Homo sapiens: one gene and its partner. The protein of the gene in region 2 purifies or fractionates together with the protein of the main gene of each other region. This does not show direct contact. Each region holds a gene or a part of one and is shown on either strand. Other genes may lie near its edges.

Region 1 (3,500 bases), on a different chromosome or scaffold from region 2:
TATTCAGAGTAAGCAAATCCATAGAGACAGAAAGTAAATTCATGGTTACCAGAGGCTGAGGGAAGGGAGAAATGGGAAATGTATGGGTTTTGAGGGAGCAGGGGATGATAAGCGTTCTGGAATGAGATAGTGGTGATGTTTTACAACCCTGTGAGTATACTAAAAGCCACCGAACTAGACATTGTAAAATGGAGATTTTTACTGTATGTGAATTATAGCTCCAAAAAACTTGGTTTAAAAAAGTACTTGACAGGCCGGGTGCGGTGGCTCACGCCTGTAATCCCAGCACTTTGGGAGGCCGAGGCGGGTGGATCACGAGGTCAGGAGATCAGACCATCCTGGCTAACACGGTAAAACCCCGTCTCTACTAAAAAAATACAAAAAAAATTAGCTGGGCGTGGTGGTGGGCGCCTGTAGTCCCAGCTACTTGGGAAGCTGAGGCGGGAGAATGGCATGAATCTGGGAGGCGGAGCTTGCAGTGAGCCGAGATCACGCCACTGCACTCCAGCCTGGGCGACAGAGCAAGACTCCCTCTCAAGGAAAAAAAAAAAAAAAAGTACTTGATAGAAAGGGCTTAATGAAAAAAAAAAAAGAAAGAAAGAAAAAAGTACTTGAGGCCAGGCATGGTGGCTCATGCCTGTAATCGCAAGCACTTTGGGAAACCAAGGCAGGAGGATCACTTGAGCCCAGGAATTCGAGACCAGTCTGAGCAACATAGTAAGACCCTGTCTCTACAAAAAAAAAAAAAAAAAAAAAAAAAAAAAAATTAAAAATGAGCCGGGCGTGGTAGCACGTGCCTATAGTCCCAGCTACTCTGGAAGCTGAGGCAGGAGGATCGCCTGAGACCAGGAGGTCCAGGCTGCAGTGAGCCATGATAGCATCACACCACACTCCAGCCTAGGAAACACAGTGAGACCCTGTCTCAAAAAAAAAAAAAAAACTAATTATATCAGTGCAATAGTTATATCCTAAAACCAGAAAACACGTTACATAGTCCACACCTTGAATTCAATCTCAGATATGAATATGCTGATTTTTTAGTAGTCTATTTAACATATCTAATCTATGCTAAGAAATCTTTATTTATTTATTTTGAAAGACAGGGTTTTGTCTGTGATATGGAGTGCAGTGGCATGATCATGGCTCACTGTAGCCTTGAGTTCCTGGGCTCAAGTGATCCTCCTGCCTCAGCCTTCTAAGCAGCTGAAACTACAGGCATGTGCCATCGTGACCAGATAATTTTTTAATTTTTTATAGATGTTTCCCAGGCTGGTCTTGAACTCCTGACCTCAAGTGATCCTCTCGCCTTGGCCTCCTAAAGAGATGGGATTACAGGTGTGAGCCACCATGACCCAGACTAAGAAATCTTTGTAATCGTTACAAATTTATAATTTAACTATAGCTAATGAACGATTGAGTCAAAACACAAAATGGCATTCCAAATAAATGTCATAAAAATTCACATCTTTTTATATTACTTTAAATGTAAAATTTACAGTGCTCAATATGTGCAAACCTCTGGTACATGGTGCATATAAAGGGGAAAAAGGTCTACTCTTCAAAAACTTTTCATCAAAGAGCTATTTCTGCATTAGCATAAATCTAGAAGGTTACAAATAAAGACAATATAATGTGTAGCTAAGAATTCATGGTAATGAAGTTCACTCGTCACCTTTCTCAGACTTGCAAAACATAGTATCTTTAAACTGGATATATGGATATACAGTACTTAAATTATACGTACCAATAAAGCTAATCATTAGTGAGGAAGACTCCTATCCCTTGCAGTCCTTTACTTGTAGTTTGGGTCTTGTAGTGATAAAACAATGACTAAGACCATTAGAGAAAATAGCCTCCTGGTTAAACATACATAATTTGATAAAGGTAGGTTTCCAATATTTGGGTGACTATTTTCTTGGGAAAAAAAAAATGACAGCTGTGTGCAGCAGGCTCACGCCTGTAAGCCCAGCACTTTGGAAGGCCAAAGCGGGTGGACCACCTGAGGTCAGGAGTTCGAGACCAGCCTGGCCAACATGGTGAAACCCCATCTCTACTAAAAACACAAAAATTAGGTAGGCATGATAGTGGGCGCCTACTAATCCCAGCTACTTGGGAGGCTGAGACAGGAGAATCACTTGAACCCAGGAGGCAGATGTCACAGTGAGCCAAGATCATGGCACGGCACTCCAGCCTGGGTGACAGAGCGAGACTCCATCTCAAAAAAAAAAAAAAAAAAAGACTACTGCTGGTCATGTTATTTTTATTGAGAGTCTCATCAATAACTTTAGGCCTGGTGTTAATAACTTACATAACTTAATGTAGTTTTCTGCCTAAAAATATAATTTCATTTTGCATCCCCAATCTCCTCCTGAAATTAGTTCCAAAATATTTAAGCACTTATACAAGGTCCTTCCAAGCAAGATATTACAGAAACTACAAGTTATGATACCGCTAAAAGGATCACAGCATCAAAGTATCAATAATTTTCACCGAAGAGTCCAAGCACATTTTAAAAGTTTCTAGCCTCACACCCGAACAGCTTGAACCTTTAGTGAGAATACTCACTGCCGCAAACACGAACAGCTTGAGAAACAAAAGCATATGTTAATAATACCAAATAACCTTGTTTCCTTGCATTTATGTACTGACAAATTGTATTTTAAAATAAATAATTTTAAGAGCAAACAGCCTGTTCTTAGATTGCCTAGTCTGTATATTTGACTAAATTTCAAAGTTACTCATATAAAACAGTGTTTTATTCACTGAAGTGAGGCTTACTTTATAGAAGATAAACACCCTTATCCGAAGTGAAAACATGCAATGCAGAAACTCAGTATAGCATTCAGCCATCCTGCAGAAAGAAATCCACCAACTGAATAATTGTTGTAAACAAATAATGCAATTTCTCAATTAGATGTCTTGATAAAATTATTTTGCCCATGCTTAACTCTTTAATAAGTATCACAATCATTTGAACTGTCTGTTCTGTAGCTTATTTATAATAATCATCACCTAAAATAGTTATGGCTGCAATCCTTTAGAAATAAATTTAGGCCAGGCGCGGTGGTTCACGCCTGTAATCCCAGCACTTTGGGAGGCCGAGGCGGCTGGATCACCAGGTCAGGAGATGGAGACCAACCTGGCTAACATGGTGAAACCCCGTCTCCACTAAAATACAAAAAAAATTAGCCGGGCGTGTTGGCGGGGCCTGCAGTCCCAGCTACTCGGGAGGCTGAGGCAGGAGAATGGCGTGAACCCGGGGGGCGGAGCTTGCAGTGAGCCGAGATTACGCCACTGCACTCCAGCCTGGGCGACTGAGCAAGACTCCGTCTCAAAAAAAAAAAAAAGAAAAAAAATTTAGTGTCATTCCGTTTTATATCAAACAAAACAGAAATTTCCATAAGTAAAAGTATTTTATGGAGCTTTTATTCCAGTTGCAGAAGAATCAAAAAAAATTCCAAAACCACTGGCCTAAAACTATCAACTGCCAAAAACAGTGC
Region 2 (4,219 bases):
CTAGTGGGCTCATTCACTAACAAAAGCAACACCACCTACTGAGCCTGACTAGAGTTACCTGGAGGAAACAGCTCGGGGAGCCCAAGTGAGGTGCATGGGACCTGATGCGCTACCACTTTCTAAGAGCAGAGGTACAACCCAAGACTGGCAGAGACCACGTGTCTTCCTGTTTTTTCTAGTGCTAAGAGAAACGGAGTCCATTCCAGTTACATAACAGGCTGGAAACCTAAAGGTCCTCCCCAAGCGAGCCCTTAGGTATATATTGCTATTCATCAAGAAGAAACTGCTCCCAACCACCTGCTCTCAGAAAGTTCTACAGGTAAGAACTGGAGGGAGAGAAGAGGAGTCTGCGCTCCTGCCGGCGTCTGCACTGCATGTTTACACTTCGGGAAATTTAGAAGGTATCGCTTGTAGCCCAAGCCAGGTGAAATAAGTTACAGAACATGCAGCTATTACAGTGTATCACACGCTTTAAAGAAGTATCAACTCGTGTTTCCCAACATACTTCAAATGAGAAAAAGAGTTACAAGCAAAAGTTTACTATAAGAACTCCCAACACCTAGCAATTGTGGTTATTTGTAGGACTCTACTGCATGCAACAACCCTCATACCCCAGCAAATCCTTAATTGTTTTTTAAATTGGGGGGAAAAATTGTGCAAGGAAAAATTATCATTTAAGTCTTAAAATACTGACATACAACCTACACATAAATTGCTTCCAGACGCTCAGAAAAGCCCAAAATGGCAAAGGGGCTGCGTCAACAGCATCACACCTGAACAGCCTCACCTGGGACAATTCCAACCCCGAAACACACACCACCTTTCGTTTCATTCCTTGCCGTCTGTAAGTGCACTAAATTTAAGTAGAGCCTCTAATTCCCTCTAGGCGGATGTAGAAATATTTAAAATAAAAATGGCACCTTCCAAAGAATAGACATATATGACAAATCTGGTTTTTTCTTTGAATTAAGCCAATGTTTATAAACCATAGGCGATGCTTATGGTAATTGCAGCACAAAATTAAAGGACACAACACCCCCCAAAAAATGAATCACCTCTAAGTTGACAGTTAAATTTTTTTAAAAAATGAAATTAAAAAGGTTAATATTTACCTTCGACGTGATTCGAGTTCCTGGCAATGCTAAATTATTCTGCAACTTAACTTACGTGAAACTCCACACTTATCTACGCCCCACTTTGACAAGGGGTTCCTCACTTGCCCGGAGGCGGGGTGGAGGGGTAGAGAGTCGATTTCCCGTTCCAATCTCAAGAGTAAAAAAGACAAATACCTGCAGGTCCTACCCAGCAGCCCCTTTTCTTGGACTGTTACTTGTAGGATCTGGGCAAGTCACTCCACGATAAATGAGTCTGATGTTTAAAAAAAAAACTTTCAGTGCAGAGTCGGGCCTTGGCCTTAGCCTTCAACATCCATCCTCCAAAAGCCCGGGCGCCTGGGACGGGTGTCTGCACCGCGGGCGCCGGCCAGGACCATGGGCCCCGCCCCCGCCCCCGCGGCCTCCCCGCGCACTCACCCCTGGATGCCCGGGCTGTACGCGCGGCTCTTCCACGGGGTGCCGGGCCGCGGCGCCTGGGCCCCGGGGCCGCCCCCTCCGCTGAGAGCGGCCGCGCGGCTGCCGGACAGCAGGTAGTTGAGGCCGTAGGTGCTGGCCTTGTTCTCGCGTTTCCGGCGACCCGGGTGGAACTGGTGCTGCGACGGGGAGCCGGCGGGCGCGGGGCCGCGCGGCCCGGGGTGCCCGTTGGCTGTGCCAGGGGCGCTGGGCGCGCCGTCGGCGAAGTTGAAGAAGGCGCCGCCGCGGCCGCCGCCCGGCCGGCCCAGCGAGGCGCTGCTGGAGGACGACGACGAGCAGCCGGGGCTCTCGGTGCCCGACTCCGCGTTGGACGAGGAGGACGACGACGAGGACGACAGCGACGGCGACTTGTGCAAGCGCCGCGCGCCCTCGGCCGCGGGCCCCAGCGCCGTCAGCAGCGCGGGGGGCAGCGCGGCGGGCGCGGTGGGGCCGGGCGGCGGGGGCGACGCGGCGGGCAGCGCGGGGCCCAGGCCGCCACTGCCCCGCCCGGCCGCCCCCGCCGCGGCCGCCGTGTCCAGCGCCGGCGAGTTGAGGCAGAAATAGGACGCGAAGCCCGAGCCGCCGCGGCCCACGCCCTGCGAGGTCTCCCAGATCTGCATCCACAGGGCATTGGCCGGCCCCTTCTGCTCGGGCTGGATCCAGGCCACGCGCGGATCCATCCACGCGCCGCCCCCGCGGGGCCCGCGCGCCCGCCCGCCCCGACGCGGCCCCGCCCCCGCCGCGCCCCGAGGCCCGGCCGCGCGCGCACGGACGGACGGACGGGCCTGGGCCGGTGGCGGCGGCGGCGGCGGCGGCGGCGGGCGGGCCGAGCCCCGGCCTCCTGCTCTAGCCGCGCTCCCGTCGGGCTCCGGCGTGGGGCGGCGGCGGCGGTGATGGGCCCCGGCAGGCCGCGGCGGGCGGCTCCGGCGCTTGGCGCGTCCCAGCGGGCGGCTGCGGTCTCCGGGCTCCCGCTTCACGCGGCGCGGGGCGGGCGCGGGGGCCGCGGCGGCGGCGGCGTTCCACTCGGGCCGCGGGGAGAGGCCATCGGAGAAGGGCGGGCGGCGGGGCCGAGGGGGCGGGCCCAGGCGCCGAGCGGCTGAAGGACCCGCGGGAGGCGCCGCCGCCCGTGCGGCTAGCCCTCAGTCACGCTCGCGCCGCTGGCTCGGCGCTCCTGCGGCGGCGGCGGCGGCGGCGGTGAAAAGACACTCTCGGCGGCGACAGCGCGGGGGAAGGAGGGGGCCGCCGCCGCGTCCGCTCCAATGAGGGGCGGGGGAGGGGGCGGGGACGGGGGCGGCAGGAGGAAGCGCGGCCTCGGTCGCCGGGCCGTGTCGCCGGTGCGCACGCGCGACCGATTTCAAATCCTCACTAGACACTGCCGCCGTGGTTACCGCGCCTGCGCGTTGGGGCCCCGTCGGCCGCGGGCGGGGTGAGGACGGCGTCAGAAGCTACGCGACTGGGAGGGGCTGGAGGGAGAGGCGGTGGCGTTGAGCCATTACTGACTAGGCCGGCGTTGGGTGGAATAGGCAGCGGCTGGAAGGCCCGCACGCCGCCCTCGGCCCGCCGCGGCGCGCAGACCCCGGCGTGCAGACATGCGCGCTAGGGCCGGTGTCACCGGGCTGCCGCCTGAGCCGCGCTGCGCGTGCGCAGGGCAGCGTGGCCGTCACCGCCGCCGGTGGAAGTTTCCGAGCAGCCGGGCGGGGGCAGCGGACGCCACCGCAGGCGCTTCCCCCGCCGGCCGGCCCTCCCTCCTGACGTAAGGGCGGGCCCCGGTCGCAGATCCCGCCCCAGGTCTCTCATCCGAGGGTCCGTGCAGCAGGTCACGCTGCGCTCTCTGGGGTCCGCGCGTCGGCCCACGTGCTCCCTGCACCTCGCGGGGTGAGCGGCCAGCGTGCCGTGCCGGGTGGCTGGCTCCGCCGCTCCGGAGCCGGGAAGGACACGCGGCAGAGTCCTGCTCCCTAGCGGGTCTGCTTACAGGCGTTTGGTTTGCTTTTTAAAATGATTTTCTATGCGAAAAGTGAAGTGAAAACTTCCAAGTTAATTCCCTGGGCAAAATGGGCAGTGCTAGCCGAGGAACGGCTGGTGGGCGGCGCGTCCGGCCCCCGGCTTCGGTTTTTCCAGCTGCACCGAGCGGGCAGGAGTCAGTGGGAAACCGCCCGCCATCCACAGCCTGCCGTTTGCCATCCCGGTGTCCCGAGCGCGATGGAAGCCGGGTTGACAGTGGCACTGTTTGGAATACAGCGCCAACCACACATCCTGTGAGGTCCAAAGCAAACGCCAGTGTCGTTGATCATCGCGGTGCCCCGCGAGCCTGGGCGACGTGAGGCCCCGCGGCTGCCGCCCTGTCTTCAGGCGGAGTCCCCGCAAATGCACTCCCGGGCCAGGGCCCTGAAGCTGCCTTAGCCCAGTGGCGCCCGGGCTCCAAGCCTTTTAAGTAGAACGGGACCTGGCCTTCGTACAGGCGTGTTGTAAATGCTACCCCCTCGTCTCCAGCACAGATGAGTAGACATTACTAAGCACTTGACCCTTCAAACATCGCCCCAACAGGAAAGGTCCGTGTGTTGCATACAAAGGCTTTGGGGCAAGTGGTGGTGGTTAGTAATGAAAATGAATGTTTCAGACGTTTTCAAATACCTTCATATTGTACACGTGGA

What was found. The genes of interacting proteins can lie anywhere in the genome.
Region 1: the proteins of TENT4A (region 2) and LRP6 purify together in Homo sapiens (affinity purification with mass spectrometry; 2 studies listed by BioGRID and IntAct, with this or other methods). This does not show direct contact.

Annotation. Positions count from the first base shown.
Region 1 is NC_000012.12:12,257,045-12,260,544, forward strand, and holds part of LRP6 (low-density lipoprotein receptor-related protein 6 isoform b precursor), read right to left. Parts: intron 1-3,500. UniProt on the Homo sapiens protein: Component of the Wnt-Fzd-LRP5-LRP6 complex that triggers beta-catenin signaling through inducing aggregation of receptor-ligand complexes into ribosome-sized signalosomes.
Region 2 is NC_000005.10:6,712,013-6,716,231, reverse strand, and holds the start of TENT4A (terminal nucleotidyltransferase 4A), read right to left. Parts: upstream 2,801-4,219; 5' UTR 2,249-2,800; coding exon 1,533-2,248; intron 1,484-1,532; exon of another isoform or gene 1,113-1,483; intron 1,091-1,112; exon of another isoform or gene 1-1,090. UniProt on the Homo sapiens protein: Terminal nucleotidyltransferase that catalyzes preferentially the transfer of ATP and GTP on RNA 3' poly(A) tail creating a heterogeneous 3' poly(A) tail leading to mRNAs stabilization by protecting mRNAs from active deadenylation.